Regions from separate parts of the Homo sapiens genome. Here region 2 is linked to region 1. Evidence: fine-mapped expression QTL. A gene starts in region 1. The other region holds a variant in brackets. All regions are shown on one strand. Distances are between the middles of the regions.

Region 1 (2,900 bases):
AATAATCCAGGAATTTTGAACACTAAGGAGGGAAGTCCAAGGCAGGGACTGAAACCCAGGAAAGCAGCTTGCTGATTTTCTTGAAACTGGTCATGCTGACCACAGTCTCTCTATCTGGCCACCCTCATCAAACAGCTGCATGAGGGAAAGACGATAAGCATGATTTCTTTTTCAAGTGGTCCTAATGCTGCAGGATGAATCAGAGATAAGCATGCATATTTGCATTTGAAGCAGGGTGGGAGTGGGGAGAATCGTTGAACATCTAGCTCCCTAAGGAGGAGCAAGGATTGGCCTAAAAGGTTTGTAGCCTGGTCAAAATACAGAAAGGCTTGGATCTGCAGAAGGATCTGGAGTGGGATCCACAAAGTGCCTTGCACCTCACTCCCTCACCCCCTCACCCAACCTCAAGAGCCACCGAAAAAAAAGTAGTGGGGTGTCAGGTGGGGCAACAGTGACTTGCTCAGACAGCTTCCTTGTGGCTGAGAGCAAGCGCCTGTCCCCACGGAGCTGCACTGCTGTGACTTGTGTCCATGGTGAAGCCTGTTATGTAGACGCACACGCACCCTCTTACCTCTGCTCTTCAAGAGGAAGCACTCAAGGGCTGCCCGCCTCAGACAGGGATAGGGAAGCGCTCTGTCTGGTGCTTAGAGGTGTCTCTTGTCTCCGCATACCACCCTAGAGGGGCTCTCGGTCCATCATAGAGCCGGGCCGAGAGCCGGGCGGTCACCCTCCGCTACTGCCGCCACCGTCGCCTGCACTGCCGGGTAGAAACGGGTCTGGCACCCAAGCCTCCCTCCCCGACTAGGTGTCAACCCAAGAGAAGGCGAAGGAGAACGAAAGTTCAGGACCAAGGACAGCGGCAACCGTGGGAGCGGGAGAATCCAGCCAGAATCTGCCTCTCCCCCATCCTTAGCTTCTGCCTTAGAAACTGAAAAGGGTCAGGTCGCACCAACACAGAGTTGCCAAAAACAGCCCTTCTTCCTCCGGAAGAAGTCGGAAACTCTGGCCGCGAGCCCCGGGTCTCGCGCTTGGGTGCTGGGGGAAGTGCCCTCCCGAGATTGTGGGGAGCGGCCTCCCTCCCGCCCTCCGATGCCGCGGCTCCGCCGTGCTGCCCTGGGCGCCCCGCGGGGAGGCTGCCCCAGCTGCGCCCGCTCGTGCTCGGGGAGAGGATTCCCTTCTAAGTGGCGAGGAGGCTACTGAGAAGGAGGGAGAGGGGATAGCAGCCGCGGGCTCCAGACGCCCTCTGCCCCCGCCCGACGGGGAGCCCATGCAGAGCCGGATCCCAGGCGGGCGCTCCCGAGCAGGCGGCCAGGAGTGGCCGCACAAACTTCTGGTCCTGGCCTCGCTCCCCTTGGAGGTCCCTCCTCCTCTCCCCGTGACACTGAGTCGCCCGCCGCTCCATCCGGCCGGTGCTTACCTTCAAGCCATAGGGCGCCCGGGGGCAGAGACGGCGCCGGCTGCTTGAGGCTTCCAGCTCCCGCCGCATCCACGCGCGGCCGCCCCTCCGGCAGCCGTCCGGGGCCGCCACTCTCCTCGGCCGGTCCCTGGCTCCCGGCCCCGCCGCGCCGTTCAGAGCCCCGGCGGGCAGCAGCTCGGCCGGCTCTGGCCCGCGGGGAGCAGTGGACGGGCCGCGGCGGGGCGGGGCGGGGCGGGGCCGGGCGCGGGGCGGGCGGGCAGGAGGGAGCGCGGGGACGGGGCGGAGGCGGCGCGGTGCGCGCGTGAGGCTGCCGGTTCGGCACTGAAGCTGGACAGCTCTGCGGCGCCCGAGCGCGGGGAGCGCGGGAGGGAGGTGCCCCGGTCCCCGCCCCTGAGACAGGCCCCGCCCCCGCCCCCCACCAAAGGAGCTGTACCTCCTCGGCGATCCCCGGCCTGAACGGGTAGGAGGGGTTGGGGGATTCCGCCATCCCTTGTTTTGAGGCGGGAACGCAACCCTCGACCGCCCACTGCGCTCCCACCCACACCCAGAGTAATAAGCTGTGATTGCAGGCTGGGTCCTCACCGTCTGCTCGCCAGTCTTCTCCTTTGAGGACTCAGAAGCCAAGGGTTGCGGGAGGCACCACCCATCCAGCAAGTCAGGCAAGGAGAGGAGGTGTTGGAAGAGGTCCGCATCCGTTTTCTGACTTCAGGTCTTGGAATCTATGTAGTCAGTTCTATTGCTGGACTCATCCAAAGGAAAAAGCCTGTTTGGAGTTGACCTGACATGGAAATGCAAAAGGAGGCCTCAGGGGTTCCAGCTCACCCTTGACTCCAAACTGAGGTGTGTGAGGCAGGGAGTGGGGAGAGGGAGAAAGAGATAGAGTGGTGAAGGGTGTTCCGCTGCTACCCTGCCCACTGTCATTTGGGCTGCAGAGGAACCTCGTTCTTCTCCCCTTTTCTTCCTCTCTCCTTTTCTTTCTTTTCTTTTCTTTTCTTTCTTTCTTTCTTTCTTTCTTTCTTTCTTTCTTTCTTTCTTTCTTTCTTTCTCTTTCTTTCTTTCCTTTCTTTCTTTCTTTCTTCCTTCCTTTCTTTTTCTTTCTTTCTCTTTCTTTTCTTTCTTCTGCAGCAATTAGTTACCAACTGTCCTCAGTTTGCCAGATTCTGTGTCAGATTCAGAAGTCACACACAGAAAGAAAACCAGGCCCCTGATCCCGCACCCTGGCAATCCAGAGAGGGGACCCCCAGGGAAATAACTGAGGCTTAAACAGGTGCTGTGAAGCACAAAAAAGCGAGACTTTACAGGAACCGGGCATTGAAGGAGCAACACCAGTTCCCAAGGGGAGAAGGTGGCACAACACTCCAGGGAGAGGGAAGAGCAGGGGCAGAGGACTGACTCTGCAGAGCAGGGAGTCGGCCCTGCATGGCTGGAATCCAGCCTCTCTGGGCCACAAGGATTAACTTCATCTCAGCATTTCCTCCAATGA
Region 2 (2,900 bases), 220 kb after region 1:
TCTAAAGGGGAAGAAACATATTAACCAAATAATTACATGGAAAATGATTGAACCAAAGATAAGCCTGAAGAAACACAGGATACTGTGAATGTGAAAGTATTTTTAACACTTAAAAGCTAATGAGGCCAGGCACGGTGGCTCACGCCTGTTATCCCAGCACTTTGGGAGGCTGAGGCAGGCAGATCACCTGAGGTCAGGAGTTCGAGACCAGCCAGGCCAACATGGCGAAACCCCATCTCTACTAAAAATACAAAAAATTAGCTGAACATAGTGGTGCCCAGCTGAGGCACAAGAATCGCTTGAACCCAGGAGGTGAAGGTTGCAGTGAGCCAAGATTGCGCCACTGCACTCCAGCCTGGGCAACAAAGTGAGACTCTGTCTCAAAAAAAAAAAAAAAAAACTGATGAATATAAAGAACAAATCTTCATATTATTACTGTTATTTGTGCAGATCTGTTCTTGATACTGAATGAGAGAACTTCACAAACACCAGTCTTACCCTTTTGGAGCAAAAAGCTGGAGACAGTTGGACACGAACATTTGATACAGGACATACCAACAGCCGAACAGAAAGGGCAACTGAGGCTCTCTGTCCTCAGCAGCCACAGAGACTTGCCTGTGCATACAATGTGCAGCAGTCACCACCCAGCGTGGCGCTAGCACAGAGCCCCCACACGTGTGCCGGAAGCCCAGGGCCACGCTGGCCTGCCACGGCCAGCGCCCAGGAGCCACAGACTGCCCACCAACTATCCGGGAAGCCAGGGGCCTCGCTCCACACTCTGCCAACAGAGATGGGTGAGATAGAAAGAGAGAGAGAGGTGAGTGTCAGCATGGTCCTAACTCTCAGGAAGCGTGGCCCAGTGCTAAGCCCCAGAGAGCCAGTGTGGACAGCTCTCCTTTCTTATTCCTGGTCCTAAGTATGGGGGATGGGAAGGTAGAAGTGTTGATTTCACCCCTGCCTGCCCCATCCAGCTGTGGGCCCACTGAAAGCAGAAACTGTATCTGCACTAATGGAGCCCTAGTACCTAACAGAATGCCTGTCCTGTAGTAAAGGTCGAAGTGTTGGTGTGTGGAAGGATGTGTGAATGGACAGATGAAGAGACGGGTAGATGAACGGGAAGACCAATGAAAGGAACTCCACAGATTGCTTCCCGTTTGGTACCTGATTCACCACCTGCCCTTAGTTTCCTGAAGCTGCTAACAGGTCACTCAATAGCCAATAATAATTTCACCTCTGGGGCTTTCCAGAAGAAAGATGGAGTTGGTGTCAGAGGCCAAGGAAGAGAGTGGCAGGTAGTGAAGGAAGGAGATCATCAGCCCAGATCTGTGGCTGGTGAGGGACATGATGGAGGCTTAGAAAGGGTTCGGCTGGGGCAGAACAGCAACTGCAAGAAGGGGCCTGGCAGGCAGATGGGCAGGTGGGCAAGACCCCTACCCCAGGCCCAGCAGAGTCTCACCATAGGGCTCTTCCACACTTGAGGCAGGGGGAACACCCCTTCCTCTCACCGCCACCTCCCCTAGACCAAGATATGACTCACCAGAGCATCTGAGGGAAACAACTTGACCAGAAGTGCAGTTGTTCCTGCAAAACAGAGGTACCAACAAGAAGCTGGGCAGGGGCCG[C/A]CCTGCAGCCACACACATCCAAGGACGTGAAGAATGGGGGAGGCTGGTGGGGGTGGTGGACAGTTCTTAAGGCTGTCATGTAGCCACAGCCTGAAGAATACCACCATTTCCTTCCTGCCCCCACCCAAACACTCAGACCCCTCCTCATCAGTGGTCCCCAGGACAGGAGCACACCTCCTGCCTAGTCTCCCAGAGGGCAACAGAAGGACTTCATGGTCCTTGCAGATCAACTGGGACATAGTGTGTTTACAGATGAGAAAGCCACACTGTTCCCACTAAGTGTCCTGAATGAATACACACTCAATGAATGAATGAACGGATAGGTGAGTGTGTGGGTGACTAGGGTTCTTCACCCCATGCTCCTTCCTAGGTTTGCTGTATTCTCCACCCTGGTCCCTCTGCCTGGGCTTTGCATATTCATATTCTTGCTCTCCTCTTTCCCCTCTTCTCTCTTAGCTCTTAGTTCCTTTTTTGACCAAAACTCTCTTCTCTTTCTTTACTCACCTCTTGCCCCTAGCAGTCCAATGTCTAGACCCTCTTAGTTTCTCCTAGTTTCCCAAATCCATAGCCCTCCCGGCTCTCCTGGAGGAGTCAGCCCCACCCCTACTTCCATTTTCCCATTCAGGTATCCAAGACAAGAACCCTGTCAGAACCTTCCCAACTCCAGCCACATTCCTGAGCACAGGAGCTGGACAGGAGGGGCCTGAAGGAACAGTTCAAATTGGAAATGTGGTAATGGGGGTGCCCACCTTTCTATCCCAGGAGGCTGATAGGCAGATTGAGGAAGCCTAGGAAGGCACAAAGACCCTCTCCGCTTGTGCCCCAGTCATACCAAACCATCCCCAGGATCTGGGGAAGGGGCTGCTCCATTCCACAGCCCTCTTCTCTAGGAGACTCTCCAGACTACAAGCAACTCTTAGCCAGAGCAACTCAACCATCTCTTTCCTGAAATATCCGAATTATCCAAATAATGTGTGGCAGGATTCAGAGAGCACTTAGCTTGGAGACAGGAGCCTGGTTTCAAGGCTTGACTTAGCTGCTTATTACTTATGTGACCTTGGACAAGACTCTTTAACCTTATTAAGCCTCAGTTTCCTAACCTGTAAAATGGTGATGAGTACCATGTCAAATCTTGTGACAATAATAACCAACCCTACATTTCTTGTGAAGGGCAAATAGCAGATGTGAAGTGGTGACAGACAGGGCTCATGTGAACTGAGTTTGTAATTTCTAACTAGGAAATGTTCCTCTTTGTCCTCCTATCATAGGCCACCAGTG

Direction of the effects. Alleles are on the strand shown, and positions count from the first base shown. SD is a standard deviation of normalised expression in the study named.
With allele A in place of C in region 2, the expression in prefrontal cortex of the gene that starts at base 1,740 in region 1 is lower (moderate effect, 0.52 SD a copy in ROSMAP).

Evidence for each region. PIP is the estimated chance that this variant, and not a neighbour inherited with it, causes the effect.
Region 2: its variant is fine-mapped to the expression of DRD2 in prefrontal cortex (ROSMAP, PIP 0.95).

Annotation. Positions count from the first base shown.
Region 1 is chr11:113,473,659-113,476,558 of GRCh38, forward strand. It overlaps DRD2 (dopamine receptor D2), which reads right to left and starts at 1,740. Exons shown (of 8, transcript NM_000795.4): 1 at 1,418-1,740. LOC105369501 (a long non-coding RNA gene) reads right to left here. Exons shown (of 6, transcript XR_948024.2): 6 at 1,871-2,195.
Region 2 is chr11:113,693,863-113,696,762 of GRCh38, forward strand. It overlaps TMPRSS5 (transmembrane serine protease 5), which reads right to left. Exons shown (of 13, transcript NM_030770.4): 7 at 1,538-1,581; 8 at 616-778. Among named protein-coding and RNA genes, the nearest start is that of TMPRSS5, 11 kb to the right of the region's middle. The variant C/A (reference allele first, on the strand shown) is at 1,623.